Linked DNA regions of Homo sapiens. The protein of the gene in region 5 purifies or fractionates together with the protein of the main gene of each other region. This does not show direct contact. Each region holds a gene or a part of one and is shown on either strand. Other genes may lie near its edges. The genes, in order: MCMBP, RSU1, TMOD3, ZKSCAN4, DHX15, SF3A3 and CAPZA1.

What was found.
Region 1: the proteins of DHX15 (region 5) and MCMBP fractionate together in Homo sapiens (co-fractionation; one large-scale study listed by BioGRID). This does not show direct contact.
Region 2: the proteins of DHX15 (region 5) and RSU1 fractionate together in Homo sapiens (co-fractionation; one large-scale study listed by BioGRID). This does not show direct contact.
Region 3: the proteins of DHX15 (region 5) and TMOD3 fractionate together in Homo sapiens (co-fractionation; one large-scale study listed by BioGRID). This does not show direct contact.
Region 4: the proteins of DHX15 (region 5) and ZKSCAN4 purify together in Homo sapiens (co-immunoprecipitation; one large-scale study listed by IntAct). This does not show direct contact.
Region 6: the proteins of DHX15 (region 5) and SF3A3 fractionate together in Homo sapiens (co-fractionation; 3 studies listed by BioGRID and IntAct, with this or other methods). This does not show direct contact.
Region 7: the proteins of DHX15 (region 5) and CAPZA1 fractionate together in Homo sapiens (co-fractionation; one large-scale study listed by BioGRID). This does not show direct contact.

The regions. Positions count from the first base shown.
Region 1 is NC_000010.11:119,838,124-119,842,318, forward strand, and holds part of MCMBP (mini-chromosome maintenance complex-binding protein), read right to left. Parts: intron 2,838-4,195; coding exon 2,720-2,837; intron 578-2,719; coding exon 412-577; intron 1-411. UniProt on the Homo sapiens protein: Associated component of the MCM complex that acts as a regulator of DNA replication.
Region 2 is NC_000010.11:16,691,563-16,695,757, reverse strand, and holds part of RSU1 (ras suppressor protein 1), read left to right. Parts: intron 1-602; coding exon 603-735; intron 736-4,195. UniProt on the Homo sapiens protein: Potentially plays a role in the Ras signal transduction pathway. Capable of suppressing v-Ras transformation in vitro.
Region 3 is NC_000015.10:51,836,000-51,840,194, forward strand, and holds part of TMOD3 (tropomodulin-3), read left to right. Parts: intron 1-4,195. UniProt on the Homo sapiens protein: Blocks the elongation and depolymerization of the actin filaments at the pointed end. The Tmod/TM complex contributes to the formation of the short actin protofilament, which in turn defines the geometry of the membrane skeleton.
Region 4 is NC_000006.12:28,241,787-28,245,981, reverse strand, and holds part of ZKSCAN4 (zinc finger protein with KRAB and SCAN domains 4), read left to right. Parts: intron 1-6; coding exon 7-866; 3' UTR 867-4,195. UniProt on the Homo sapiens protein: May be involved in the transcriptional activation of MDM2 and EP300 genes.
Region 5 is NC_000004.12:24,539,096-24,543,290, reverse strand, and holds part of DHX15 (ATP-dependent RNA helicase DHX15), read left to right. Parts: intron 1-264; coding exon 265-351; intron 352-1,268; coding exon 1,269-1,418; intron 1,419-2,342; coding exon 2,343-2,451; intron 2,452-2,991; coding exon 2,992-3,183; intron 3,184-4,195.
Region 6 is NC_000001.11:37,975,982-37,980,176, reverse strand, and holds part of SF3A3 (splicing factor 3A subunit 3), read left to right. Parts: intron 1-643; coding exon 644-712; intron 713-1,121; coding exon 1,122-1,189; intron 1,190-1,349; coding exon 1,350-1,457; intron 1,458-3,223; coding exon 3,224-3,293; intron 3,294-4,195. UniProt on the Homo sapiens protein: Component of the 17S U2 SnRNP complex of the spliceosome, a large ribonucleoprotein complex that removes introns from transcribed pre-mRNAs.
Region 7 is NC_000001.11:112,657,295-112,661,489, forward strand, and holds part of CAPZA1 (F-actin-capping protein subunit alpha-1), read left to right. Parts: intron 1-1,727; coding exon 1,728-1,807; intron 1,808-2,406; coding exon 2,407-2,485; intron 2,486-3,911; coding exon of another isoform or gene 3,912-3,941; exon of another isoform or gene 3,942-3,958; intron 3,959-4,195. UniProt on the Homo sapiens protein: F-actin-capping proteins bind in a Ca(2+)-independent manner to the fast growing ends of actin filaments (barbed end) thereby blocking the exchange of subunits at these ends.

The DNA.
Region 1 (4,195 bases), on a different chromosome or scaffold from region 5:
CACCAAAGAACCCTTACGACCCTCAACATCTAATACTACCCTTTATATTACTGCTCCATTATACTAATACTACCCTTTATATTATTGCTCCATTATATAATATATAAAATATATAATATATGATATATATTAAATGAGACATTATATATTATATATGATATATATTATATAAGATATATTATATAAGATATATATCTGTTCCATTGTACTACTTTCAGAATACTATGGCAAAACATAGTTGGTGTATATAATTAGTTTATAACATATGCTTTAATCAAATTCATATGCCAAGCCTTTATCTTACGTTGTTAAATGTGAATTTGTCCATAGATACTCTTCTAAAAGTTATTCCTAGATCTGGCTTTAGTGCGAAGGAAGTCAGAAATGGAAGAGAAACATCTATGTACGTACCTGGGGTATCCAGCTGCCCCTGTTCCAGGAGAGTCTCATCGATTACAAGGGAAGTATTGCTGGGCAGCTGGAGGAGCCCACTGACCAAGCGATTGGCTGTGTAGTCTTTGTGGGGAATGAATTTCAAATGGTTCATGTTCTCTATAGTCATCTGCAGACGAAAAGACTGCAAAGAGAAATTTTTTAGTGAACAAGAATTTAAGTTTCCCTGTTTTAAGAAAATATGTACTTGGAATTAAACATTGTGTTTCATATGGAAAAAGTGATCTTATAAATTTCTAAGGGAGTAGTGATATGGTTTCTTGAACTCCAGAAGCAAAAATAGTATCTAGATCTTACATTTGAATTTCATCCATTTTATGAGCTACTTTATTCTCAAATGTCTTGTTCAATATTCTTGAAAATCAATTTTAATTTAACCAATGAAACAAATGGTAGATAACTGACATATAAATATTAAATACCCCAAAACCTAACCTCTTTCACCTAACACAAGCTAGCTAGCAAAAAGAAAATGTTAATTTTACTCTTCAAGACAGGGAGAGAAAAGCTTAATTTTCCTCTATATTCTTTGAGTTAAAATTGTATTCATTTATCATAGACATTTTTGAACAAACTTTTCAGAGAAAAATCAAGGAGCAGAGCACACTGAGCTGTGGATGGACCTGCAGCTCTCAGGAGGTGCCTCCAGGACGCGAGCACCTTCTCACTCAGTGTTTAACGAGTAAGCGAACCATCTATGCTCCTCCTCCAGCTCTTGAGCCACCATTCCCAACACCCTCTGTGCTCTGCCTTATACACCAATCCATTCTTCCATCCCTCCAGCCTCAAACAATGTGGCAGGGATGGAGAAGAGGGTATGGTGGGGGAAGGCTGTCAAGGAAGAGGTAAGATATATTGCGAAAATTTAGAGGAGTTTTGTGTATTACCTCAGTGATTCTAAGAAAACGGGGAGCTTAGGGGTGCTTAAATGACCTACCATGTATTAATTTATTTGTTGGTCTTCTACCTAAACTCTGTGAGGGCAAAGGATCTGTTTCAATAATTCTCAAAATGTGGTCCCGAGAACCCCCAGGGAATTGCTTAAACCCTTTTACAGGGTCAATCAGGTCAAAATCATGCATGGATAAAAGATCCTTTCAATGTGCGAGACTAATGAATTTTACCATAGCAGACTATGGAAAGTTTACGAATAGGATTTCAGATTCCACACTTAACTATCTTTAAGAAAATCTCATGTGGACAGTTTTGGTCTAGTATCAAAGACCACCACCCAGTTATCTGCAAAGGCTATCGAAACCATCCTTCCTTTACCATCTACTTTTCCATCTGTGTGAGGCCAGCTTTCCTTCATATACTTCAACCAAAACCTGAGACTACAATAGACTGAAGGCAGAAGCAGATACAAGCATCCATTGTCTCCTATTAATCCAGACATTGAAGAGATTTGCAAGAATGTAAAACAATGTCACCTTTATCACTAATCATTTTTGGCTTGGGAAAAGTTGTTTTTATAAAAATATTTATATGTAATTTTTTATTTTTAATAGGTGTATTTACTTTATCTTCTAGTTTGGTAAATTAATGATAAATATAATCATAACGTGAAAAACAGCTCTTTGAGTATGAACACATTTTTCAGAGTGTAAAGTGAGTCTAAGGAGACTGAGAACTGCTGGTATATTCCAGTCCACTTCTGCTTCTTGAGGGCCTGGACGAGTGTTAGCACTGAGACACTGAATACATTCGGTTCAATAAAGATCTAGTGCACCCTCTTCAATTTCCAAAGAAGTGATCAGTATTTTCAGTCACACAACTAATCAGAAGCAATTCCCCTGTTCCCAAGATCCTACCACCACGCAAATACTGCATTCCAGATACCCTGGCAAATAAAGTGAGCTCAACTTTCCAAACAGGAATTAAAATTGAGGCAATGGAGATAAAGAACTTTATTACCTCAACTAAAAGAATTATGCTCCTACAATTTAGAGTTTATTTAGATTTAAGACTTTAGTGTACAAAAAGGATACCAAATTGGACAAATTGGTATCAAGAGAGTGTAATTTTAAGGGAGTTACTACAATTGTTTTGTTAGACTTACAGAAATTTGTGCTTAGGCAAAAAGACAAAAAAAAGTGAAATGTTTAGGGGAACGTACATTTTAAATTATGTAATTTGGCAGGCTTTGTTTCCCCTTAAATAAGATCTATTAAAATCTCTAAGTTAAATATTTGAAGTGAATGAAAGACAGTTAGATGGATTTTTTAAGTGTGCTTAGGTTTATAATACATATTTATATTCATCTTACTGCTGGAACAAGATGTTGAATAATTCGATACAAGTGTTCTGTGAAGGTACTATTCCGTGGGCAACCACTCAAGTTAACTGTAAATTTTCCTAGTGGAAGGACATCTCTTCTTGTATATCTAGAAAAGAAAGAAATCAATCAATAAGATGCTGAAGTGACTTCCTGATTTCTATCAAATAGCGAAGAATAGAAAAATTAGCTTAATATTGTCATTAAAAATAAACCAGAATATTCTGACCAGTTATTTTATCAGAATAACAGCAATAAAAGTAATAGCCAATATTTGTACGTAAGTGCTGCTGGTCACGTGCCAAAGACCGTTCTGAGTATGTAAATGCTTCCTCATTTAACCCCTAACCATTCAGCGGTAGGTGCTGTTGTCTTTGCTTCACAGATGAGAAATCCGAGGCACAGAGATGATAATAAGCAACATGTTCATCTAAATGGAAGCTGACAGAGCTGGGATATGAATCCGGGTAGTTTGGTTCCAGAGCCTGTGCTCTCAACCATTATGTACTACTGTCACAGACTGATTTGAGAAAAGATAAGATTTACAGCACAAAGATGTTTCCTGCAACTTTATAATAGAGAAAAGCTAGGAAAAGCTAACATTTAGGGAAATGGTTACAGTATGGTACAACTGCATAGTGAAATACTTTGCAGCCACTACAAAGTTCATGAAGCATTATGATGGGAAAATGTTTAATATATATCAACTGCTGAAAACAAGACACGCATCTGTGCTTAGAGTGTAACTAAGACCTATGCAAGGATGTATACATATGTAAACAAAAACCAATGAACATGTACCTAAAGGTTAACGGAGGTTCTAAGTGGTGAAATTACAGATGATGTGCATTTTCCTCCTTATGTTCTTGGAACTTGTCAAAGGCCCACACTAGTTTTAAAATGAGAAACAAAGAAATACAGTGGAGTCAAGGGATGCGGTGCTAGTGTCAATGTCCACGTTAAACGTGCACATGACGTGGGCGCCTTGGGATGTATAAACAGAGCGTTCAGAATGCAAAAGGGATAAAACAGCTCATTTTACTCATCAGCCAGGTCCTTTATCTCAGGGGTCCCCAACGCCCAGGCCGTGGACCAGTACTGGTTCATGGCCTGTTAGGAACCGGGCCACAACATAGGAGGTGAGGGGTGGATGAGTGGGCATTACCGCCTGAGTTCCGCCTCCTGTCAGATCAGCAGTGGCATCAGACTCTCACAGGAGCGCGAACCCTATTGTGAACTGCACATCTGTGTGTTCCCTATGAGAATCTAACTAATGCCTGATGTTCTGAGGTGGAACGGTTTCATACTGAAACCATCCCCACTCCGGTCCATGGAAAAATGGTCTTCCATGAAATGGGTCCTTGGTGCCTAAAAGGTTGGGGACCACTGCTTTATCTGATTTTGGCTCTAAAATTTAAGGGGACATAATCAAAATGCTAAATGTGAACTGTGAGAAAAGGAATTTGT
Region 2 (4,195 bases), on a different chromosome or scaffold from region 5:
GTATCTGACCTTCCAGATTGCTGGAGAATGAAATGAGGAATGATTTTAAAAGGTAATTAGTCTTTATCACTGCCATGTTAATGAGATTCATTTAGGGCTGATTCCGAGATGTGCTTATGCTCTTATACTTGAGTAACAACGGTTTGGCTTGGGTAATATTCCTGTCTTTCTCCATTCATACGCTGTCTTGATTGGTGAAAAAAGTGGTGTTGATCAGATTGGGCCCAGATCAGCCAGGACAAGGCATGATGCATACTGACATGGTCAAGATAGAATTTTAAATGGTTTTCATATTATCACTTCTCTTAATTTTGAACAAGTCATTTTTGTCTCTGCAGCAAATACCTCCTTCCCTCTGCTCTGCTTTCCTTTTCCATCTGTCTTCTTTCTTCCTTCCTTTGTTCTTAATTTCTGGGGCCAAGGTACTGTCATGACTGTGTACCTGTGATGACTTGGGTTAAGAAATTTAAAAGACATCAAATGATCCAAGAGGCACTTAGGGTTTGATTTAGGGTACTTAGGCTGTGATTACTGAGAAGGACTTCTTAGACCTGATCTGTATTGGATGAAGTGACCTTCACTTTTTTTTTCCCCCCCCCCAGGAAACTTGGATTTAACTGGCCAGAAGCAGGTATTCAAAGCAGAGAACAATCCCTGGGTGACCCCCATTGCAGACCAGTTCCAGCTTGGCGTGTCCCATGTTTTTGAGTATATCCGTTCTGAGACATACAAATAGTAAGTAGACTCTGATTTTCTGAAATAGTAGACTGTGATTTTATAGTATTTATAATTACGCCTTTAAAAATATTATGTGACAGTATCCTATTGATGGCAGTTAGCACTTAGCATTTTAAGATGTTTTATTAAAAACTGCATGTCGGCCAGGTGTGGTGTGGCTCACAGCTGTAATCCTAGCATTTGGGGAAGTCGAGACTAGAGGATTGCTTGAGCCCAGGAGTTTGAGACCAGCCTGGGCAACATAGCAAGACCCCGTCTCTACAAAAGAAAAAGAAAAAGAAATTATCCAGGCATGGTAGTGCATGCTTGTCATTGTAGCTATTCTGGAGGCTGAGTTGGGAGGATCACTTGAGCCCAGGACATTGAGGCTGCACAGAGTCGTGGTCATGCCCTGCACTCGAGCCTGGATGAGAGAGCACGACCCTTTCTCAAAAGAAAAAAACAAGAAAAAACAGCATGTGGTCATTGTCTCTATTTGTAAATTGTTTTTTATTGATATTTTCAAGGGGATTTTTACTGATTTTCTTTAGAGAATTTTTGAGGTATTAAATTAGTTGAATATTCATGGCACTAAGGAAATTCACCATTCAGATCAGAACATATTTTTTTTCTTCTGTGAATGCAAAGAATTACAAGTGTTCTGAACAAAATTGTTAAGCAGTTTATTTATAAAATCAGTAGAGAGTACTAGCAATGCGTCATTCTATTATAGAGAAGCTTGTACTGTAGTGAGATGATAATCTCTTAGAGAAAAGGGGAAGGCAGGAGAGGAAGCGGAATCTGCCAGCTTAAAGTCACAGCATCCAAATACCTCAAGTCCTCACTCCAGGTGAAAGGAGTCTATGCAAAACTGTCCCAAAAACCTCACGATTCCTGCTTCTTTCTTCCTCCATGTGTCAAGGTTGAAAGGAATTCTGCCACTTCCACGTGCTTCTGTTGTTATATGTACCGTCATTATTTTCCTACCTTATCCCAGCCCCCAGCTGCAAAACAAACTGTCATTTATCAAATACTTGCCTGACCCCAAATGCTGAGATCTAGTATAATTTTAAGCATATACAAAAAAGACAAAAACATCCCTACTCAAATGTAATCTGTTTTTGTGTCTGACATCAACTTTTAAAATTTATTTTTTAATTAATTAATTAATTTTTTTTAAGAGACAGGGTCTCACTGTATTGCTGGGCTGGAGTGCAGTGGCACAATCACGGCTCACTGCAGCCTCAAGCGCCTGGGCTGAGGCAATCCTTCCATTTCAGCCTTCCAAGTAGCTGGGACTACAGGAGCACACCACCATGCCCAGCTAATTTTTTTAATTTTTTGCAGAGACGGGGTCTCCCTTTGTTGCCCAGGCTGGTCTCAAACTCCTGGTGTCAAGCAATCCTGCTTTCATCTTCCAAAGTGCTGGGATTACAGTCATGAGCCACCATGCCCAGCCTGGCACCAACTTTTGAGAATCTAACATCCCAACTATTGGAAGAAAGCTAGAAGATTGCTAAAGGTCACATTTAGTTAAGAGTTTCTTTTCTTTTTTTTTTTTTTGGTATCAGAAATATGTCCCACACTCAAGAAAACCCTGTGAATCTGTGCCAGGCCAGTGGGTCGGGATTGATTGGCAGGGCAGAGCCTCTGCCCAGAAGTGGCTGGCTGCATTTCTGCAGTCTTGCAGCCTGAGCGCCATGCTCCTGGTCAAACATTTAGCACTTGCTGTGGCCATGTTTCCACCAGACAGAAACAGAGAAGACAAGCTGTAAAGAATAATGGCCAGCCGGAGCATGGTGGCTCACGCCTGCAACCCCAACACTTTGGGAAGGCAAGGCGGGTGGATCACTTGAGGTCAGGAGTTTGAGATCAGCCTGGCCAACATGGTGAAACTAAAAACACAAAAATTAGCTGGGCATGGTGGAGGGGCACCTGTAATCCTAGCTATTCAGGAGGCTGAGGCACAAGAATCGCTTGAGCCAGGGAGGCAGAGGTTGCAGTGAGCTGAGATCGTGCCACTGCACTCCAGCCTGGGCGACAGAGCAATATTCCATCCCAAAAAAAAGAAAAAAGAACAATGGCCTTAAAATGAAATACACTAAAATTGCCAAAATGATACCGTATCCTCCTATATAAAAGCAATGTAAAGCGTGGTTTAGATTACTTTAGACAATACTATGACACTTACAGTATAAGTCTAAAGACTTACCTTAAGGATAAAATGAGATAGGTATAGGATGTGTATTAATTGTTTCATAAGCCATATAGATATGTACAGTTATTACAGATTCAATTTTTTTTAAAAAAATACGAATGTAGCTCACCCTTAGAAATTAGTTAATTATGAAAATGTGTGAAAATATAGTCACAAATTAGCAGATGATTGTTTATCTTCTTCTTTGTAAATTGTTAATCATTGCTATCGTGAGTTTTAGATGGGGCTCTAATTTTTTCTTAGTAAACAGGAAGCTATTTAGAGCTTGGTTTGTATGGTATCTTGAAAAAAGTCATTCTGTATATGATAGTATACAGAAAAATGCATGAACAAACTCCTAGCCATCTGGAATTAGAGGAAATTCTCTGTTTATTATTCTGGTTAACAATTTTTAGTTTTCCATAGATCACTTTATAATTTATAGAGGATGAGAATACATTGCATATGAAAGTGCTTTTAATTTTAAAAGATTAAATTGTGAGTTTCTGGATTTTGTATTACCTCAAAGTAATTATTAGGCAATTAATCACCATTCTGCACTGTTACAGACTATTTTAACTGATTTGAATGTGGTTAGGATTCTGGATAAATGAGAGGTATCTATAACATAATTGGTATATCTGTTTTTATGTCTGTTATTAGCATCCTATTTTGGGGGGTTGGCGTAGTCTAAGCAATGTGTCTGCTAACTTTTTCTGTTTCATTTCCTCATGGAGCCTTGGATTACCTTTTATGCAGTTAAGTCAACATTAAAAAGTTTCAGTAGGCTGGGTGCGGTGGCTCACGCCTATGATCCCAGCACTTTGGGGTGAATTGTGGGGTGATTCACCATGAGGAGGGTGAATCACTTGAGGCCAGGAGTTCAAGACCAGCCTTTCCAACATGGTGAAACCCCATTTCTACTCAAAATACAAAAATTAGCCGAGTGTGGTGGTGGGTGCCTGTAATCCCAGCTACTTGGGAGGCTGAGGCAGGAGAATCGCTTGAACCTGAGAGGTGGAGGTTGCAGTGAGTTGAGATAGATGGCGCCACTGCACTCCAGCCTGGGTGACATAGTGAAACTGTGTTTCAAACAAAAAAAAAAAAAAAAAAAAAAAAAAGAAGCAGCAGCTTCAGTAAGCACCGGAGAGCCATTGCCTCCTTTCCACGGGGACCAGCTGGTTCCATAACAGCTGCTTTTAGGGGCATCTACATGATGCTCTGCTGGGAGGTCACAAGGTACATGAGCTATGCTAGGGCAGGGGCCTGCTGTGAGTTCTC
Region 3 (4,195 bases), on a different chromosome or scaffold from region 5:
AATCCTAAAGCTTAACTAAAATAGAAGCAGAAAAAAGCTAAGATTTTCAAAGACAGGATTACCTTTCTGTGGAAATGCAGGACAACTTTGGTTTCCTTATTCATTCCTTCCCCCTTTCTCTAACATATAACAGCTTTAGTGAGATATAATTCGCACACCATACAATTCACCCATTTAAAGTGTACAGTTCAGTGGATTTTGCTACATTCAGAACTGTAGAACCATCACCACCATTTTAGAACATTTTCATCACACCAGAAATAAACCCCTTACCATTAGCAGTTACTACCTAATTCCTCCCAATTCCCCCCTGGTCTCCCCCACCCAGCCCTAGGCAACCACTAATCTACTCTCTCTTAAGATTTGCCTCTTCTGGACATCTCATATAAATGGAATCATATAATATGTCATATTTTGTGCCTGGCTTCTTTCACCCTTATACTACTCTTAAGAATTCGTTTTCACGCCTATAATCCCAGCACCTTGGGAGGCTGAGGCGGGTGGATCACGAGGTCAGGAGATCGAGACCATCCTGGCCAACATGGTGAAACCCCGTCTCTACTAAAAATACAAAAATTAGCCAGGCATGTTGGCACACACCTGTAGTCCCAGCTACCCGGGAGGCTGAGGCAGGAGAATCGCTTGAACCTGGGAGGTGGAGGTTGCAGTGAGCCGAGATCATGTCACTGCACTCCAGCCTGGTGACAGAGTGATGCTCCGTCTCAAAAAAAAAAAAAGAAAAAAGAAAAAAGAAAAATACTGAAATACAGTCAAGGTTCCTCCTGAGATGTGCACCCTTTTTGAGCTATAAAGATATCCACTGCCTCGGGTATATATGTTCAACACCTGCACCCACTCACTAAGGAAGGAACACAAACACACTAAGACAAACTTACAAACTAAGGTAACATATACAGTGATGATAACCCCCTACAAATAAACAGTTTCATATCTGGGCATAACTAAGCATGAACATCATGATAAGTACATACAAGTGAACACAGTTCCTGAAGTGTCTGTGAGAAAGTGAATAAAAACATGGTAAACTAGAAGAAAATGAGGGCTGGGTTTGATATATATATATATAGACTTGTAGGTAAGAAGATTGTTGTATTTCCTTAACCATAGCATAGCAATTCTTTTGAGCAGGATATTATTAGTGATACTTATACAGTAGGGGATTTCCATCCATGTGGAAAATTACAGCCAACAAAATATTTTCATTCCCTGGGTGTGGTGGTAAAACTTTGATGAGGAGTTAAGGAATATTCAGAAGAAGCCCCTCAAATGTATATGAGTCTGGCTTATATTCAGGCAGCCCTTACCCTGAGGCAAACGTGACAAGATATGATACAACCCCCAAGATTTATTTTCATTCATGGTGGGCTATAATTAACCCAGGTTAATACTCTTAGGGAACTATTCTTTTTTTTTTTTTTCCTCTTTAATGTGCCCACTTGAGTGCTAGACCAGCTGAGGAGTTGGGGGTCTAATTTCACTGGAAATAGCAATAAATATGTGATGATTTCAAAGTCATGCCCACCCCACTTTTGTTTTTCTCCTGTTGTCCCTAAGATTTACAGTTTCTTGGTGAAAAATTACAGAACCCTACACAGAAATGGACCAAGGCAGATGTGTAGGATTTCACCTCTGCAAGGCCTTCGGGGCAGGTGGGCTCTTCTGTTAGTCCTCAGCACACCCTCTGTGCTTGCCTTTCCTCTGCCACTTTTCTTGAACCCCCATTATTATTCCTTGTCAAGTCATCTCACTTCCTGCTTTCCTTAGACATTGGCCAGCATTCCAAGTGATATAGTGTGCCCTCCACCAGAGAATAGCTGGCACTGCTTTAAGCCCCTTAGCCTTCCCTCCTACCTCAGAAGAAACTGTTTCCTCTTTTCTTCTCCCACTGCCTGAATCTGGTATAGCACACAAGGGGAGCCTCTGCAGAAATGTTACTTGAACTGGTCCCTGAAAGATGTGAAAGGATTTGAACATGAGAAAGAGTGCAAAAGGACATTTCCTGTGTAATGAACCGTGTGATGTAAGGGCTGCAGGCGGAAGAGCATGGAGGCGTACTTACTTCTGTGTAACACAGGGTGTGTGAAGATCGCTCCTTTCCCTTTACTTTTCTTCTTCTTGCCCTGGATTCCCTCCCAGCTCCAACCTTTTTCAGCCTGTGCTTTGATCTCTTTGTTTAGTATATACTTCTCCACTCCTCTCTGTGTAGCTAATTCTGTCCCTCCCTGACCACCCACAGTGATCTCTGAATTTCTGTACACTAATAGCCAGTACCATTCTTTTGGCAGTTAATTATATATTTTCTTGAAAAAAACAAAAAGCACTTTATGTGCATGTCTCATTTTCCCAAATAGAGTATGTTAGTCAAGGTGTTTAGGTCTCCGGGAACACAAACCCACTTAAGCTATCTTGCTAGATGGTATGGTGGCAGAGCTGGGAGTTGTACTGCATTACTATTGTAAGGCTGCTGAGGTCCGTGAAATGACCTACCACTGGTACCCAGAGCAGACACTTTGAAAGTCTCTGTCCTCTCTCTGCTTGTAGGGCTCTCTTTGGCTTCTTTCTGTGCCTCTGCTCCATTTTAGGACATTAATTTTAATTTTTAAAAAATAGTATGCATTACTGTGTAATTTATCTTGATTGCTGAGCTTTTTTGCACCCTATTAAATACTGAGACACCCTGAGGCAGGTGCCTCCTTTACTTTTTCCCTGTAGCCCCAGCCCTGCTTCATTCTCTTCCCTGCAGACTGACCTTCTGTGCTTTCCCCTTAGCTTCAGCTTCAAGGTGACTAGCTTGTTATGGTAGTGCCTCCAGACTTGGTGATACCTTATGTCTCAACTTGAGTTTTGTCTCCCAGCTTTCCAGATTTCTGGAGAAGAATTGAATTTGATCCGTCCTGGTTAGATTGAGAGTGGTGACCCCTGTACCAAACAGCTGTGAAAGATGTGGCTTTGTTATGTTGTTTCTTTGGCTGTATATTTCACAGGGACTGGAATAAGGGGTGGGTCCCCCCACACAAGGAGGTTTGGGGTTGTTCATCTCAAAACATGCTTATTTTGATGTCAGAAGGAAGTGACCATGCCTTCTCTTTTTTGGTATGTTCCCTGCATCTGGCAGATTGACAGCTAAGAAATAGGTGTATCTCTCTTTTTTTTTTTTTCCATTTTGTTTGAGACTGGGTCTCACTCTGTTGCCTAGGCTGGAGTGCAGGTGTGATCATAGGTCCCTGCAACCTCCGCCTCCCAGGCTCAAGCAATCCTCCCACCTTAGCTGCCCAAGTAGCTGGAACTAAAGGCACGTGCCACCATGCCTGGCTAATTTTTTGTAATTTTTATAGAGATGGGGTCTCTTTATGTTACCCAGGCTAGTCTCAAACTCCTGGGCTCAAGCAGTCCTCCTGCCTTGGCCTCCCAAATTGCTGGGATTACAGAGGTGAGCCACCACACTCAGTCTTCTCTTATTTGGTGTCTATTTATTCCTATGACTTGCCATTTGACCATTAGGATTAACTTTTAGGTATAATAGTCAATTCAGAGCAATTTTTTTTTTCGAGACAGGCTTTCGCTGTCATCCAGGCTGGCGTGCAGGTGTGATCATAGCTCACTGCAGCCTTGAACTCCTGAGCTCAAACAATCCTCCTGCCTCAGTCTCCCAAGTAGCTGGGACTACAATTTGTACACCACCACACCTGGCTAATTTTTCTAGTGAGCAATATTTTTAATACTTAAAATGAATTACTAAAATTTGTGTTATCATTTGGAAATTTTCTAATTTTATAGCAGATTAAATATTTTTTAAACATTTCTTTTTGGAATTTGTTTCTCAGTTCAGAAAGAATAGGGGAGTAGAATATTGATAATCAAAGAGTGACAATACAGTACAACTTTACTGACTCCGCTCCCAGCCCCATTAGGATATGATAAAACCAAGTTCTCACATCATTGACCTCAATGCTTACTGAGTCCCCTTATATTACTTTATTTTATGTTAATTTAGTGTCTACCATGTTGCAGGCACTATATTAGGGGCTGATAATGTAAAAATAGGTCCTTGCCCTCAAAGTGCTCACAATCTATGGTGGAAATAGATTGTGGTCTCTCTGTCAGAGACATGGAGACTGATTATGGTCTGGTGAGATAAATATTGATAGAAGTGTGGGCAAAGTGGTGGGCTAGC
Region 4 (4,195 bases), on a different chromosome or scaffold from region 5:
TTTCAGGTGGTGAAATACAGACTAAGAGCAGGGACTTGCCTCCAGTCAAGAAGCTTCCAGAAAAGGAGCATGGGAAGATATGCCACCTGAGGGAAGACATTGCCCAGATTCCTACACATGCAGAAGCTGGTGAACAGGAGGGCAGGTTACAAAGAAAGCAGAAAAATGCCATAGGGAGTAGGCGACATTATTGCCATGAATGTGGAAAGAGTTTTGCTCAAAGTTCAGGCCTGACTAAACACAGGAGAATCCACACTGGTGAGAAACCCTATGAATGTGAAGACTGTGGAAAGACCTTCATTGGGAGCTCTGCCCTTGTCATTCATCAGAGAGTCCACACTGGTGAGAAGCCATATGAGTGTGAAGAATGTGGTAAGGTCTTCAGTCACAGCTCAAACCTTATCAAACACCAGAGAACCCACACTGGGGAGAAGCCCTATGAGTGTGATGACTGTGGGAAGACCTTCAGCCAGAGCTGCAGCCTCCTTGAACATCACAAAATTCATACTGGGGAGAAGCCATACCAGTGCAATATGTGTGGCAAAGCCTTTAGGCGGAATTCACATCTCCTGAGACATCAGAGGATTCATGGTGATAAAAATGTTCAGAATCCTGAGCACGGGGAGTCCTGGGAAAGTCAGGGTAGGACGGAAAGCCAGTGGGAAAATACTGAGGCTCCCGTGTCTTATAAATGTAATGAGTGTGAGAGAAGTTTCACACGGAATAGAAGTCTTATTGAACATCAGAAAATCCACACTGGTGAGAAACCCTATCAGTGTGACACATGTGGAAAAGGTTTCACTCGAACTTCATACCTTGTTCAACATCAGAGAAGCCATGTAGGGAAAAAAACTCTTTCACAGTGACCCATGGTATTCATGCCAACATTGGTGCTCATTTGTCACTGAACTGAAGCCACCCTGGAGCCCTTAATGGTTACAGAAATTGTGGACCAGGGCTTTATTTACCACTATACATCATCGGGTATTAGAAAATGTAGTCTGGCTGAGACGATGAGTTATCTTCTACATTCTAGAAAGTGATTGGAAGAAGTCATTTGATAAGAGGCCATGGGAGAGTGGTCTGGAAGTTGTAGGACCTAAAATAGTTTGTTCTCACCCAGTGTATTTAAATGGCCTTCTGGACTTGTTAATTGCCCTCAGCCAGCACTTTAGGACATCTGGTTGGATGGCTCTGATGTGGGGGGCTGCTGCTCTGACCATTCATTTTGCCTCTAATGAATCTTTCACAAATTGGTCAGATCCATGAGGTCTTTTACTCTTCTTTGTGCCTTGTATGATAGGTGCTAATAAACATTTATTAAATGTACCAGTAAAATGGCCTTTGTACCAAAAATTTGATGTTGTCTATATTTCTGAGAAATTTCTAACTTATGCCATTTGAATTTATGTATTATTCTCTGAGGTTCTAGATTCTGGGCCAATCTAGTGTATTTGTTGCCACGTACATACTGTTTTCAGAATTGGGGTGGGGGAATCCATATTTCTCTACCATGATAGTAGAGATGAGAAGAATGCCTTAAACAGCTTCTTTATCATTAAGACACTGTGAGATTGCTCCATCCATAGAACTCCACTGTCTGGTCAATGTTAATTATGTTAGTTTACATTAATTTTGCTACTCTTTAGGGGGAGTCTTTCACATTCAGGTAAATAAAAATCAACTTACTGAGTTAGATCAAAATGATTATTATGAATTTTGAACACATTCTGTAACACTTACCATCTTGTTTCTTACCTTTTAGTTATCTTGGGCCGACCAAGTGCTAAGACGTCATCTGTGTCCCTCTTCCCCAGTTTATAGCTGACTGTGCATCAAGGCTTATGCCAGCTAAGCTTAAACTTTCTCCAGGTCCGAAGATTCATAACAAATATTTATAATTATTATTCATGGTTTCAAAACTGCCCTGTCAGTTGGGGACAGGAAGATCAGGTTAGAGGCAGCCTATGAGGATAGAAACTCACATCTGAGTGGTAGGAGAAAATGTATCTGTTCAGGCTGGGTGCCATGGCTTACACCTGTAATCCCAGCAATTTGGGAGGCTGTGGCAGGCAGATCACATGAAGTCAGAAGTTTGAGACCAGCCTGGCCAACACGGTGAAACCCCATCTCTACAAAAAATACAAAAATTAGCCAGGCATGGTGACACACGCCTGTAATCCCTGCTACTTGGGAGGCTGAGGTAGGAGAGTTGCTTGAAACTGGGAGGTGGAGGTTGCAGTGAGCCGAGATGGTGCCACTGCAGTCCAGCCTGGGTTTCAGAGTGAGACTCTGTCTCAAAAAGAAAAAAAAAAAAGAAAAGAAAATGTGTCTGTTCAGAAGCACATTGGGAATCCTAGGTATCTGATGAAAAAGATTGTACAATATCCAAAGTGTTGATATGTGATGTCAAGGCTCAATGCTGTGAGTTATTCACAAGAAATAAGAATTTTTTGATATCTTCTGCTTTCACCCAAATCACCTGCGATGCTTAAAGACTGATTTCTTCCGAAGTGCTCAAGTGCCTATTACCATCTTCCAGCATTGCCAGACTGTCATGAATGGATTCTGCTTCTGATGAAATCCCTGACCATGTTTTATTCAGTCACCAGCATCGTGTTCTTGTCTATCCTCAAATACCCTTTCTGGATTTCTCCTCTGAAATACCACAGGCTGACCAGAGACTTACAAAACCGTAGAGCTCTCCCTTTATTAATTCCCTACAATCTTTTATTGCCTTCATTATCTCCTTTTCAGTCTAATTTAAAACTTCTTTAGAATTCCAAAGTTCTGTAGACTTTCTCTGCTCAATCTTTTCTAGCCTTTTCAAATTTCTTTAAAATCAGCTTTATTTATGTTATTTCCACAAAGCTAGCCATTTCCTTTTCTCCTTTTTCACTTCTCCTAAATATTTGCTAAATAGCTCTGATTTTACACACTCAAACTCATTACAGACAACTCTGTTAACTTTTCTGTGATATTTGTTTCTGATGTTACATGAAGAGATATATGTGAAAGCCTTTTACAAACCAGAAAGCATTATACAAATATAACTTCCTGAGATTAACTAAGGACCACTGTGCCTCCTTTCACTCCTGCGCCTCCAAGCCTAAAAGTCTTCTCTGTAGAGGAGGGAAATATTGTAGAAAAGTACTTTTCAGTGTCTGCTATGCTAGAAAAGGGAAGAAATAAAGCCTCTATTTGTGTGTGTGTGTGTGTGTGTGTATACACACTTAGGCTTAGGTCTTTAGTACAGTCAGGTTGGTAAGACTTGCACACAAATAAGGCAGTGTAATGATAAATGCCTTATGAGTGGTAAACTGAGGCTTGTAGAAATTCAGAGAAGGAAAAGGATGCTTCCAGCTGTGCAAGCTGTTATTATATGGACAGGGTGACATGTTAGAAAGCTGAATGGACTCACAACAACTTTGTCCAATTGAGTAAATAAAGCAAATTTTAAGAGATAGGGACATTGTAGGGGCCTTCAGTGCCAGAGCAAAAAGTTTAAATTTTATTCAGTAAGCACTGGGGAGCCATGATATTTTATAATCAAAATATTATCTAGGAAACTTTATCTGGTGTATTATATAATATCAAATAAAATCATTTTGCTTACAGTCTTTTAGATACTCCACTTTTCTATAAAACAGTGGTATGTGTTTATAAATAGCTGAATTATAAAATGAGTTTATCTGTAGCCTATTGAAAGGATGGCCAAAAAAGTTATTTTCCAATGAAATTAGATCTAGTAAAGTAAACTACTTAGTTGAGATATAAGCAGTATATAAAGCACAATAAAATGCCACTTTTCATATTTTCTTAAATTGCTTTTAGGAATTTTAGTGGTGACTAGTCTGCCATTCTATTTCATTTCTGTAACTGAAGCAGCGCAGAAATCTTCTATTTTCTTTTTTCTCCCTTTGCTTGAATAGTAAATGGTTATAGCACTTTTTCTACTTCGATAGAATGAATGGTTATAATGAAAAAAGCTTTTGATGAATGGCACTCTTGGATTTGTTCTTAATTTTGGCAAAGACGTATATAATTCTGCAAAAGACTTTCTCTGCCTCTTCCTTTAGTGAGAGAAAAAAAAAGGTAGGAATGACAACTTAACTCCTAGGATTCTGAGGATCTGCTTATACAAATAAGAAGTGCTAAGTAAAAACTCTGAAAATGTTGCTAACTGGTAGAGAAA
Region 5 (4,195 bases):
AGCAAAATGTAATGCGGTTGAGTGATAACCTGAAGTAATAGCTTTGTTGAGAAAGAAGTTGCTGTTGTGGTGTAAACAAAATTTTGGTTCCTTAAATATTAATTTACCTTTTTAAAGCATTGGCCATTGAAGATCAAATGATATTTCTAGTTTATTTGCTGGCTTGAAATTCCTTGTGTCAGTGAAAGTTAGTGGCTGATCTTTAACAGTCCTGTTAATTTTATTTGATATGTAATATAATTTATATACTCTATTTCTTAACAGGTAGTTGTGTCAACTAACATAGCAGAGACGTCTTTGACAATAGATGGTGTGGTGTTTGTGATTGATCCTGGATTTGCGAAACAGAAGGTACATATTTAGTGGATACTTTATAAATTAGAGTTGGTTTAACAGTACTTACAACCAATTCATTTAATGGCTAAAATTTACCTTTCAGAATTATTTTCCTATCTTTTTTTTTATTTGCAAATTTCTGCTGTATGAACCCTTTATGTTTTGGCTGGCTCTCAGAAATTAAGACAGTATTTAATATGTAATTCTAGGCTTTTTTTTCTTTTAGAGTTGCTTTGCTTTCTTTGTTTCAGTGTAGTGACGGTGGGTGTTTTGGCTTGTATATTCATTTAACAGTATGGGTTTAGTAATAAAGTACAGGATTTCTATCCCTGCAGTTCAGTCACTTCTCCCAACATTATTAGAGTTACTGCTGTCAACTAGGCACACTATTTGAAAACAGTACTATGTTACTCCTCTAGTTTAACAGTGCTGTATACTAAATGAAGTGAAATGCAGGTGAAGTGGCTATTCAATAAATACGTTTTATTTTTCAAATATCTTTTGGATAAATTGATTACATTTTGTTATTGATGGAAATTTTTTCATTAAACAGTAACAGAGTAATAGTACTCAGACCGTCGAGTTTTGAAAGTGAAGGTTTCTTTTCGGGCAGAATCCTTGACTGCCCAGCATATAAAAAGCAAGGAACAAGGTCAGCCTGATAGAACTGAAATTAGGAGGAGTAAGGATTATATAAGCTGTGTGTTTGACAAGAAGTTTTTCATGTTAGAGTCTTTCAGATGATCGAATTAGAATGTCTGAAAGAACTTTAAGGTTCAGGATGGTGGGTTGTCTATTGTAGCAGCATGATTTATGGCTATCGATATTTCTTTATTTATTTTGGAATTAACTGTGGGCTTTGGATACTTCTGTTGCATCACAATTTTGTGTTTGACTGAAGAAAGACTCTTGTGTTATTTCAATTCCAATAGGTCTACAATCCTCGAATCAGAGTTGAGTCCCTTTTGGTGACAGCTATTAGTAAAGCTTCAGCTCAGCAAAGGGCTGGTCGAGCTGGACGTACCAGACCTGGAAAATGCTTCAGACTTTACACAGAGAAAGCTTATAAAACAGAAATGCAGGTATGGGGTATTGTCGTTTCCTGCCGATATGTTTAAAATGTTAGGTTGAATTATCTTACCAGAAGAACATTGCCTTATTTACTTAATCTTGCCTTTTAGGATTAAAAGCTCCTTAGCTTTTCCAGGAGTGAAATGTATGGTGTAATTAACTTAGATAGTCGTACACCCCCTTATTCCAGGCTGATACATTCCAAGACCCTCCCCCTCCCACGCCTAAAAACTGGAATATGCTGAACCTTACTTACATATACTATGTATAAATATCTTTCTTTACAATTTCACTGATAGAAGATGCATTCTTTCTTTAGATGTGATTTTTTTGCTCTTTTGTTACTAGGTTTCAACTTTTTTTCTTTCCTTACTAACTTTCAGCGTTTCACTTAAAGGAAGCACTTCAGGGCCTCTCATTGGCATATCCAAATTGCCAGCATCAATATTCTTGGCGCTTTGGGGCCATTATTAAGTAAAAGGTTACTTGAGCACAAGCACTGTGATACTGCAAAAGTTGATCTAATAACAGATGGTTGCTAAGTGACAAATGGGTGTATAGTGTATATAGCATACTACTAAGAATGGTGCACAATTTAAACTTGATGAATTTTTTCTGGAATCTTTAAAATTTTTTCTGTTGACACTGCTTAACTGAAACCATGGAAATTGCGAGTTCAGATGAGTGAAGACTACTATACGAATTTCTTTCTGCAGTTGCGAGTTTTATGGACAGTAGCAAACACTGAATACTATAAAGATAGTTGGAGAAAAATGGTTTCTCTCTAGTCTAGCCTACAAGTATTTATCTCTACTGAGACAGTGTAGAAGTAATGCCAAAACAAATAGCTCAGGAGGCAGCAGATTTTTGTTTTCTGGAACGAGGAGACTGAGGCATTTTTAACATAACCAATAAATGTTTTTGTTCTTTGCTAGGATAACACCTATCCTGAGATTTTGCGTTCTAATTTAGGATCAGTTGTGTTACAATTGAAGAAACTTGGTATTGATGACTTGGTACATTTTGATTTTATGGATCCACCAGGTATGACTTATCAAAACACATTTTTATCAGATCTTTTAACCAAAATTGACTCTTAGTGTTTTTCTCCATCCTATTTAATATATGTATTAAATACATTTTGCTTTTTCCATCCAGTATGCATCAAGATTAAGTCTTACATGATAGCATTAAAACTAAAAAAGGTGACAGTTATATGAGCACATTTTTTTTTTTTCTTCAAAAGTTATTATGGGGGGGTTTGGGTAAATTGAATTATCCTCTGGGCATGAAAATGTGAGAATTCCTAAGTTTTCTTTGGGGAAAAACAGTTTGATAAACACATTGATGAATTAGCAATTATTTAATGTATTTCGGAAGAAGACAGTTTTGCCTACAGGAAAATTTTGCAATGTTTTTATGATTCATTGTTTGCTAGATCTGTATAATTGAATTGGATGACAGTTTGAGTTTGAGTTTGGTCCACTGCAAAATGAAAAATGAGATTGCTTATAATAGTTTGTACTTTGTCACATTTTTGCTTGCTTAAGGCACCGTGTCTAATAGATTGTCTTTTACCACTAGCTCCTGAAACTCTGATGAGAGCCCTGGAACTTTTGAATTACCTGGCTGCTTTAAATGATGATGGAGATCTGACTGAATTGGGATCCATGATGGCAGAGTTTCCTCTAGATCCACAGCTCGCAAAAATGGTTATTGCAAGTTGTGACTACAACTGTTCTAATGAGGTCCTATCTATTACTGCTATGTTGTCAGGTAATAGAGGGAAAGGAACAAAAAAAAGCCCAGCTCTTCAAAGTTTGGGTGGACTTCACTTTTGTTTTTGTTTTTTAATTTTTAGTATGATAGTGGATTTTATAGATGGTTTTAAGGAATTAATTTTGTTTTCTAAATACCTTGTAAATAGCTTCGTAATGACATAGTGCTTACAAAAGTAAAGTAAGTCATTGTGCACAAAAGATAAGTAAAGCATTGGCTCTCTTGAGTGCTAATAAAAATTGCAGTAAGTTTGAGCACAGTTGTAACTGAATTCTTTGGTTAAAGGTCCATCACTGCTATCTTTGTGGTTTTTTTGTTTTTTGTTTTTTACTGCAAGTACAGGAAGAACTTTGCTCTAGTACTTAGCTCTATTAAGTGTGCCTGTGACAAACTGAAAGCTATACATTAAGTTGAGCCTTTTCTATATATGTACTCCAATGGCACCCGAACAAACATGAATTTCAAACTTCATATCAAGTAAATAGAAATAGTAATGTATAATTTTAGGCTTAAAATCTAATCTGATAATGGTATTCTTTTACAATGGTAGAAAAACTTGGTAAAAGAAACATACCTAATATATAAAATCGCTAATTTTGTAAAATTGGACCATTAAGCTAAGGAAATAATGCTGTTTTTAGTAACAATAAAATGTAATCCACAAATGAATAGTAACTTGGAAATTAGATTTTCCCTAAAGGAGAAGAAATATTGTTAAGAAACAAATGAATAGCTATTCTTACAGCTAAAAATAGAAAATAAGTTCTTACTGACGATTAAAATATTCTCTGCTACTAGTTTTAGCACGGGAGAGAACTGACTCCCTATTGCTGAGTGGTTTATTGAACTTAATGCTGCAAATATTTCAAAATATTCTGTGGAATTAAAGGATAAATTGAAAAAAATTTAAATGTAAAATTATGGCTTAGTTTAGACGTATGGTATATTCTAATGGTGTGAATTTTTTATTTAAGAAGTAGCTAAAATGTTTTCTTGCAGAGTTATGACT
Region 6 (4,195 bases), on a different chromosome or scaffold from region 5:
CTGGGATTACAGGTGTGAGCCACCGCACCTGGCCGTATGTGAGTTTTTTTGAGTGTACTTTGGAGCAAGACTGCCAGGGTCCACTTGCCTTTGACTGTGCCCAGATTTTCACCAATCACATCATTACTGCTATGTGGTTCCTGCCAACCAAGAGCTTATCAGATCATATGTTAGGAATCTACATTCTCACTTCTAGGGATAAACATGAGTTTTTCCTGAACTCTCCAGGGAGAGAATGTGGACAAACCTTAGCTTCATCCTAAACCTGGTGGGGTTTTTTTGTTTTTTGTTTTGTTTTGTTTTGTTTTGTTTTTTGGGAGACAAAGTCTCCATCTGGCTTCTAGGCTGAAGTACAGTGGCATGATCATACCTCACTGCTGCAGCCTCAACCTTGTGGGCTCAAGAGATCTTCCCACCTTAGACTCCTGAGTAGCTGGGACCACAGGCACATGCCATCATGCCCAGCTAATTCAGATAATTTTTTGTAGAGACAAGATTTCACCATGTTTCCCTGCCTGGTCTCTAACTCCTGAACTCAAGCAATTCACCTATCTTGGCCTCCCAAAATGCTGAGATTACAGGTGTGAGCCACCACACCTGGCCTAAACCTGGATCTTAATAAATACCATATTGTTCTTTCCAGAAAGAGACAAGCAGTGCCCTGACCCATGCTGGAGCCCATCTTGACCTCTCTGCATTCTCCTCCTGGGAGGTATGTTTCCTTCAGCAGTAGTAGTGTTCTCTCTGTCTATTTTTCTGTCTTTAAAGACTGCTCTCCTGTCTTTAATACCATGGTTGTGTTGTGATAAGGCACTATTTCTTGAGATCAAGCATCTACAAAGAAAGTAGCAAGGCAAAAAGAAAAAAATTACTACTTGGGAAACTGAAATAATTATTCTAACTACATTAAGCCGTAGTAAAGTAAATGGAACACTATCAGTATGGTTAAGTCTGAAGATAACTATAGATTCAGTCCTCTGGAGAGTTTAGACTTACTGCTAGATTGGCTGTGAAATGTGTGGTCCTGCCACAGCCTCAGGAACACCCACCCTCTGGCCTGCATTTGGGGTTTCCCAAAAATCTGTTAATGTAATATTGTAATTTTTCTCTTCTTTGTATAGGAGTTGGCTTCTCTGGGTTTGGACAGATTGAAATCTGCTCTCTTAGCTTTAGGCTTGAAATGTGGCGGGTAAGGAATAGTTTTTCTATCAAAACTATCGATTTACTGTGTGTTTGCACAGTCTTCTAAGTAGCTCTGATTCCATTTTTTTTGTTGCTCCACACTGCAAAAATAAGCCAGCCTGTGTGGTAAAGTAACCCTAAAATCCTTTGCCGTCCTGTCTCCTTAGGACCCTAGAAGAGCGAGCCCAGAGACTATTCAGTACCAAAGGAAAGTCCCTGGAGTCACTTGATACCTCTTTGTTTGCCAAAAATCCCAAGTCAAAGGGCACCAAGCGGTGAGTGGCTGGGGTAGCACTGCTGCTTGTGGCTTTTAAATGTTATTCCCATGCAGAATTTTTAACCACAGTGGAGACTTTAAAGCCTGCTTTATCTCCGTTATTGGTTGACAGAGATCCAGTCTGCTCTTTATCTCTGCTAATAGCAGAGAGTACTATCACTGTTAATATAAACCAAGGACCGTCTGTATTCATCTGATTGAGAGCACATCAAGTTTCTAAATTTGAAACCATATTCATGGCACCTTTAATAGGTTATGGAGGCTAAAAGGCTAAATAGGTTCAAAACCTATTTTTCTAAGCTTATTTTTGGTAAAGTTGAATCTAATTCTTGAGCTACATACTTATACAAGGTATTTTCTTTTTTCTTTTTTTTTTTTTTTGAGACAGTCTCACTCTGTTGCCCAAGCTGGAGTGCAGTGGTGCAATCTCAGCTCACTGGAACGTCCACCTCCTGGGTTCAAAAGATTTTCCTGCCTCAGCCTCCTGAGTAGCTGGGACTACAGGCACGCACCACCACACATGGCTGATTTTTTGTATTTTTAGTAGAGATGGGGTTTCATCATGTTAGCCAGGCTGGTCTGCAACTCCTGAGCTTAAGTGATCCACCTGCCTTGGCCTCCCAAAGTGCTGCGATTATAGGCGCGAGCCACCGTGCCCGACCCAGGGTTGTTTTTTTTGTTTGTTTGTTTTTTTCTTTTTTGAGATGGAATCTCGCTCTGTTGCCCAGGCTGGAGTGCAGTGGCACAATCTCGGCTCACTGCAAACTCCGCCTTCTGGGTTCAAGTGATTCTGCTGCCTCAGCCTCCCGAGTAGCTGGGATTACAGATGTGCAACACCACATTGGCTAATTTTTGTGTGTTTTTTGTTTGTTTGTTTTTGAGACGGAGTCTTCCTCTGTCACCCAGGCTCAAGTGCAGTGGCGCAATCTCGGCTCGCTGCAACCTCCACCGCCCTGCTTGAAGCGATTTTCCTGCCTCACTCTCCCGAGTAGCTGAGATTACCAGAGTGCGCCACCATGCCTGGCTAGTTTTTGTATTTTTAGTAGAGACGGGGTTTCACCATGTTGGCCAGGCTGGTCATGAACTCCTGACCTCAGGTGATCCACCTGCCTCAGCCTCCCACAGTGGTGGGATTACAGGCATGTGAGCCACCGTGCCCAGCTAATTTTTGTATTTTTAGTAGAGAGAGGGTTTCACCATGTTGGCGAGGTTGGTCACAAACTCCCAACCTCAAGTGATCGCCAGCCTCAGCCTCCCAAAATGCTGGGATTACAGGCATGAGCCACCGAGCCTGGCCCAGTATTTTCTTAATGTACGTTTTTTTCTAATTCTCACAACAACCCAGAAAATTAGTTGTTATCCTGAGTTTTTGCAGATAAGGACTCAGAAAAGTTATGGAATGTGTCCACTCTCTCATAGTTCTAAGTAGCAGAGTCAGGATTTGGGCCTAGGTCTACCTGCTGCAGAGCTTGCTCTTATATACCACATTTCCTTTGTAGATTATAATGATGGAAATGTAAGCGGTCTTGATGTGTCCTTCATCTTCTAAGTGAGGTCATAGAGGAAGCCTCCATGCATTCTGAGAAATACCCTCAGTATTTGTCAGAGAGTCCTGAGATGAACAGAGCATTTGCTTTCATAGCATCGTATTTCTCATGTGCTTATAATTTTTAATGCAGTTGTGCAATAAATGTTCCCAGATATAGGGAACAAAACAATGGATGAGAGAATCCTTGAGTGAAACAGCTTGTTTCTTTTTCTCAGAGACACTGAAAGGAACAAAGACATTGCTTTTCTAGAAGCCCAGATCTATGAATATGTAGAGATTCTCGGGGTAAGTGACTGACTGCTGAAAGTGGAAAATGGTATAAAGCACAGGAGTTAAAGGGAGAGGAACTCACAGAAGATACTTTTTCATTAGGTTCAAAAGAGGAGTGGATAGCTGATAAACTAGTATGGCACAAAATAGAGGTCAGGGTACAAGGCTCTTCAGTAAGTTCCTATTCTGTTGTTAGATGATACTCCCAAAGTTGCCCAATTCCCATAAAGCCAGTCATGGAGAATAGAGTCCCCTCACAATATAATGTCCAGAATAGTGCAGATTCTGTGCCTGAGCTTTAGAAAATACTCAGGAGTAGCCCACAAAGCAGACACTCAAAGGGCAAGTAACAGAAAGGCTACTCAAAGTGGCCTTTCAGTTATGACTTATGAAAAGGCATTTTCATAAGTCATCTCATGTAAGTCAACTTACATGTTCATAAGATTATGAGAAACTTAGTAGGGCTAGAATATTATTAGTACAAAGCTGGCAGTGAATGTTCTTGAATATTTCAGGAGGAGCTGAAGTGTGGGTTGGGGTAGAGAAAGGCCTAGCCTGACCAGTATGCTTGTCTCAGAGAGAAAGCAGGGAGAGGAGTAGGAGGAAAAGAAATCTCTTTCCAGGAAGAAAAAGTGGAAGAAAGGGCAGCACTCATCCAGAAAAGATGATCAGTGTCTCTGGAGTCCTTCAGAAGACCAGCCTTTCTGATTGTGTCTGCTGTGTACAGTTTTTTTTTTTTTTTTGAGACAGAGTCTTGCTCTGTCACCCAGGCTGGAGTACAGTGGTGTAATCCGGGCTCACTGCAACCTCCACCTCCAGGGTTCAAGCAAGTCTCCTGCCTCAGCCTCCTGACTAGCTGGGACTACAGGCATGCGCCACCACGCCCGACTAGTTTTTTGTATTTTTAGTAGAGACAG
Region 7 (4,195 bases), on a different chromosome or scaffold from region 5:
TTGCCCTTTCTCCCTCTTCTCCACTTTTTCCCTTCTCTCATCTCTCTCTGCATCACCACCACGTCAGTACATATTCTTTGCCTGCTAATGCCATTTCCTCTATCTACTTCTGAACCCTTTAATTTTTTACTTTAGTCTCCATTCTACAGAAACTGCTCTGAGTTTACTAATGGTTCCTGAGTTACCTGGTCCAGTGTCCTTTTCCTTGTCCATGACTTCCGAATGGCATTTCACACTGAAGCCAATCAACCACTTCTAGAAATTATCTTTTACTTAGGCTGCTGTCAGCAACCCCTAATTCTTTTTTTTTTTTAGAGATGGAGTTTTGCTCTTTTTGCCCAGGCTGGCGTACAGTGGCATGATCTCAGCTCACTGCAACCTCCGCCTCTCAGGTTCAAGCGATTTTCCTGCCTCAGCCTCTCTAGTAGTTGGGATTACAGGTGCCCACCACCACACCTGGCTAATTTTTGTATTTTTAGTAGAGATGGGGTTTCACCATGTTGGCCGGGCTGGTCTTGAACTCCTGACCTCAGGTAATCCCCCTGCCACAGCCTCTCAAAGTGCTGGGGTTACAGGCTTGAGCCATTGCACCCAGCCCCCTAATTATTCTTACTCTATACTAAGTTCTTTTTTTCCCCTACCTTTGTAAATGTAGGCATTCCCCCAAAGTTCATAATTCATTTAATGCAGGTAAAGTAACACAGACTTCGGTGTCACAAAAACAGTGGGTTTGGATTCTACCTTTACCACTTCCTGAGTGACCTTAGGCAAGAAGCTTTGTGAACTTCAACTTCTTATCTGTAGATAACACTGTATTTCATCAGATTTATTAGAGGAAAAAGAAAATACATGTAAGAACATATTTTGTGGACTATAAAGCGCTATTTTTTTTTTCTTACTTTCCCTTGGTGATTGCATTTCCATTCACCTCTCCCACACTAAAGAAGAGTTAGTGTTTCTAACTACTAACTAGACATCTCCATCTGTAATTTCCAGTTTGTTAATGACACCACCATCTTTTTAGTCACTCTTGAGTTCCTTCTTTCCTTTGCCCATCATTTGCAATATACTGCTAGACTTTGATTGTACTTCTACATTCTGTGTGCAACTCTTCCTTTCCATTCCCATTAATATAACTCTGACTTGTTGCCTAGATTAATCCTGTGGCCTCCTAACCAAGCTTCAGCTTTTCTTCGTTTTATCTTGAATACCAGTATTGATTATTCTCCCACAATATTAGTTCTAGTCATGTTTTGCTGTCTCTCCATTGCCTATAGAATAAAATCTTAAACTTCTTACTTTACATCTACTATTACATGACCTAAATCTACCATCCTGTTTTGTCTTTCATTAGTCCACTTCACACACACCCTTTAAACCTGACAGTCTTGTTCACTGAACAAGTCCTTAGTTTCCTGTCTTGCCTTTATTTTCAGTCTCTGCTTATCAGAATCTCATCTGTCTTGTATGACCCAGCCTAAATGGCACCCGCCTTGTACCCCAAACCAAGAGCAGTATTTCCCTCTGTTTTCATTGTATCACTGTCTCTGGTAGAACCTAACATGTTCTGCTTTGTTTTCATATCCCATGTGCACTATTGTGTTCTAAGCTCATTTTATGTGATTCTTTGTCTCCCCCAAGGATTTAACACTCTGCTTTTGTACAATGCATGTTGTTTAAATTAAAAGTGTTTGGAGTCTTTAACTATTTTTTTTTCCCAACAATAGGTTTATGCTAAAACTATCGATGGGCAACAGACTATTATTGCATGTATTGAAAGCCACCAGTTTCAGCCTAAAAACTTCTGGTAAGAAGTAGATATTCTCTTCTATTTACATCTGAAAGAAACCAGCAGTTGAGACTTGGTTTTTAATCCAACTAGCTTGGAATAATTATTTAACTTACAGACTTCAGTTTTCCATCTATAAATGAGGGATTTAGATTCCTTACAGTTCTAAGGTTTTATAATTATATTTTCCTTTAAAAGTTACTCTTATTTTGAGTGAGAACAAGTGATTAGTAAAGTGCCCTGTTGAAAATCTGAGTTTTACTTGGCTTAGGGTTACTGCTACTTGAGTTAATTGTGTAACTCAGCAGCCTATTCATCTGATTTTGGAAGAGCCTCCCATGAGCAGAATAGGCATGGTTTTCCATTTCAAGGGAAAAAAGGAAAAATGAAAGACAAAATAACTTAGAAAAGGCTTATGGTCAGGCCACTTAGATCCAGACTTACATTTGAGTAGACAGAGCTTTGGGTTTGCCAAACTGGAAATGACAGTTTCTCTCTCTCTCTTTTTTTTTTTCTTTTTTTGCACCCCTCTTTCCCAACTTCTGTACCTCAGTGGCAAATCACCTCTTTCTTGTGCTTATTGCTAATTCTGCAATGTTGTGTGTGTGTTTTAATAGGAATGGTCGTTGGAGATCAGAGTGGAAGTTCACCATCACACCACCTACAGCCCAGGTGGTTGGCGTGCTTAAGATTCAGGTGAGATTCCAACATGTTTATAGACTTAAAACTTCACATCTTTAAAACATGTGCAGGTTGCTTTGGTATTAAATAAGGACCAAGTATGTGTAGATGCAAAGGGAGACTGATGGCAGTGAATAGAAATAGAAGCCTCCTTCTTGGGGTGGTAAACAGAGAGAGCTATTCTGAGTTGATAAAGGATAGCATGTAGAGTGTATGGCAACATGGTTATTGTTATTTTTCCTTCAATGGTAACATAAGATATAACTAGGAATTATCAAACAGCAGTTTTAGGAAAGATTTAAAATTAATAATAATAATAATTATTATTTTTTGGGACAGAGTTTCACTCCATCACCCAGACTGGAGTGCAGTGACGTGATCTCAGCTAACTGCAACCTCCACCTCCCAGCCCAGGCTGGGTTAATTCCTAAAAATTATAACTAGAGAGAATGGCAGGTGTTTTGGAATATAAATAGCCAAGCAGAAGTAGATTGATTGATTGATTGATTGATTGACTGATTGATTGATTTTTGAGATGGAGTTTTGCTCTTATTGCCCAGGCTGGAGGTGCAATGGCATGATCTCGGCTCTTCGCAATCTCTGGCTCCTGGGTTCAGGTGATTCTCCTGCCTCGGCCTCCCGAGTAGCTGGGATTACAGGCATGCGCCATCACGCCTAGCTAATTTTCTATTTTTAGTACAGGCGGGGTTTCTCCATGTTGGTTAGGCTGGTCTCGATCTCCTGACCTCAGGTGATCCACCCGCCTCGGCCTCCCAAAATGCTGGGATTACAGGCGTGAGCCACTGCACCTGGCCCAGAAGTAGATTTTTAATGCTGATGTCAGGGTAGACAGGCAGCTGAATAAGATAGCTGTTAACTCATTTGATGCCTGTCTGGATTGAAGTTTAATATCCTAGCAGAGGTTTGACTTTCTAAACTCAGGGTGATTTAATATTTAAGCCTCACTAACTGTAAGGTCAGAATAGGTACAGGTAACCGAGAAGATCAGTACCTAATCGTACCTGTATTATATTATGTGAAGCTGTGCTTTAACAACAATTACCAAGAGTTGTCTTTTTTTTTTTTTTTTTTTTTTTTTGAGAAGGAGGAGAAGGAGGAGTCTCGCTCTGTCGCCCAGCCTGGAGTGCAGTGGTGCAATCTTGGCTCACTGCAACCTCTGCCTCCTGAGTTCAAGCAATTCTCTTGCCTCAGCCTCCCAAGTAGCTGGGATTACAGGCACACACCACCACGCCCAGCTAATTTTTGTATTTTTAGTAGAGGTGGGATTTCACTATGTTGGCCAGGCTGGTCTTGAACTCCTGACCTCAGGTGAGCCACTGTGCCCAGCCAAGAGTTGTCTTTTTTAATGCTCTAATTTAATCAAGTGCATAGGTAATAAATTCTGTAAAAGTAAATCTGCTCTTTTTATATATACCTATAGCTTCCTGCAACAAGTAGCTCCTGGCCATAGGAGCATGCCCAACTCAGGTGAGACAGGCTGGTGTTGAGTTCACAGCTCTAGGAGGAGCCCTCAGTGATATGTAAGAGTTGGTAGATAAATATGGCAGCTTCCTCAAGTAGGACAACTTTCAAGCACATTCTGTTTAGTCTTCCGGAGCCCAATACCCACAGCTGTAACCTGCTCATAAACGTACCTCTAAGGCTTCCTTCCCTTCTGTGTCCCACTTCTTCTGTCCCCTACTGTAGCTTTGTGAGATTCGCTCC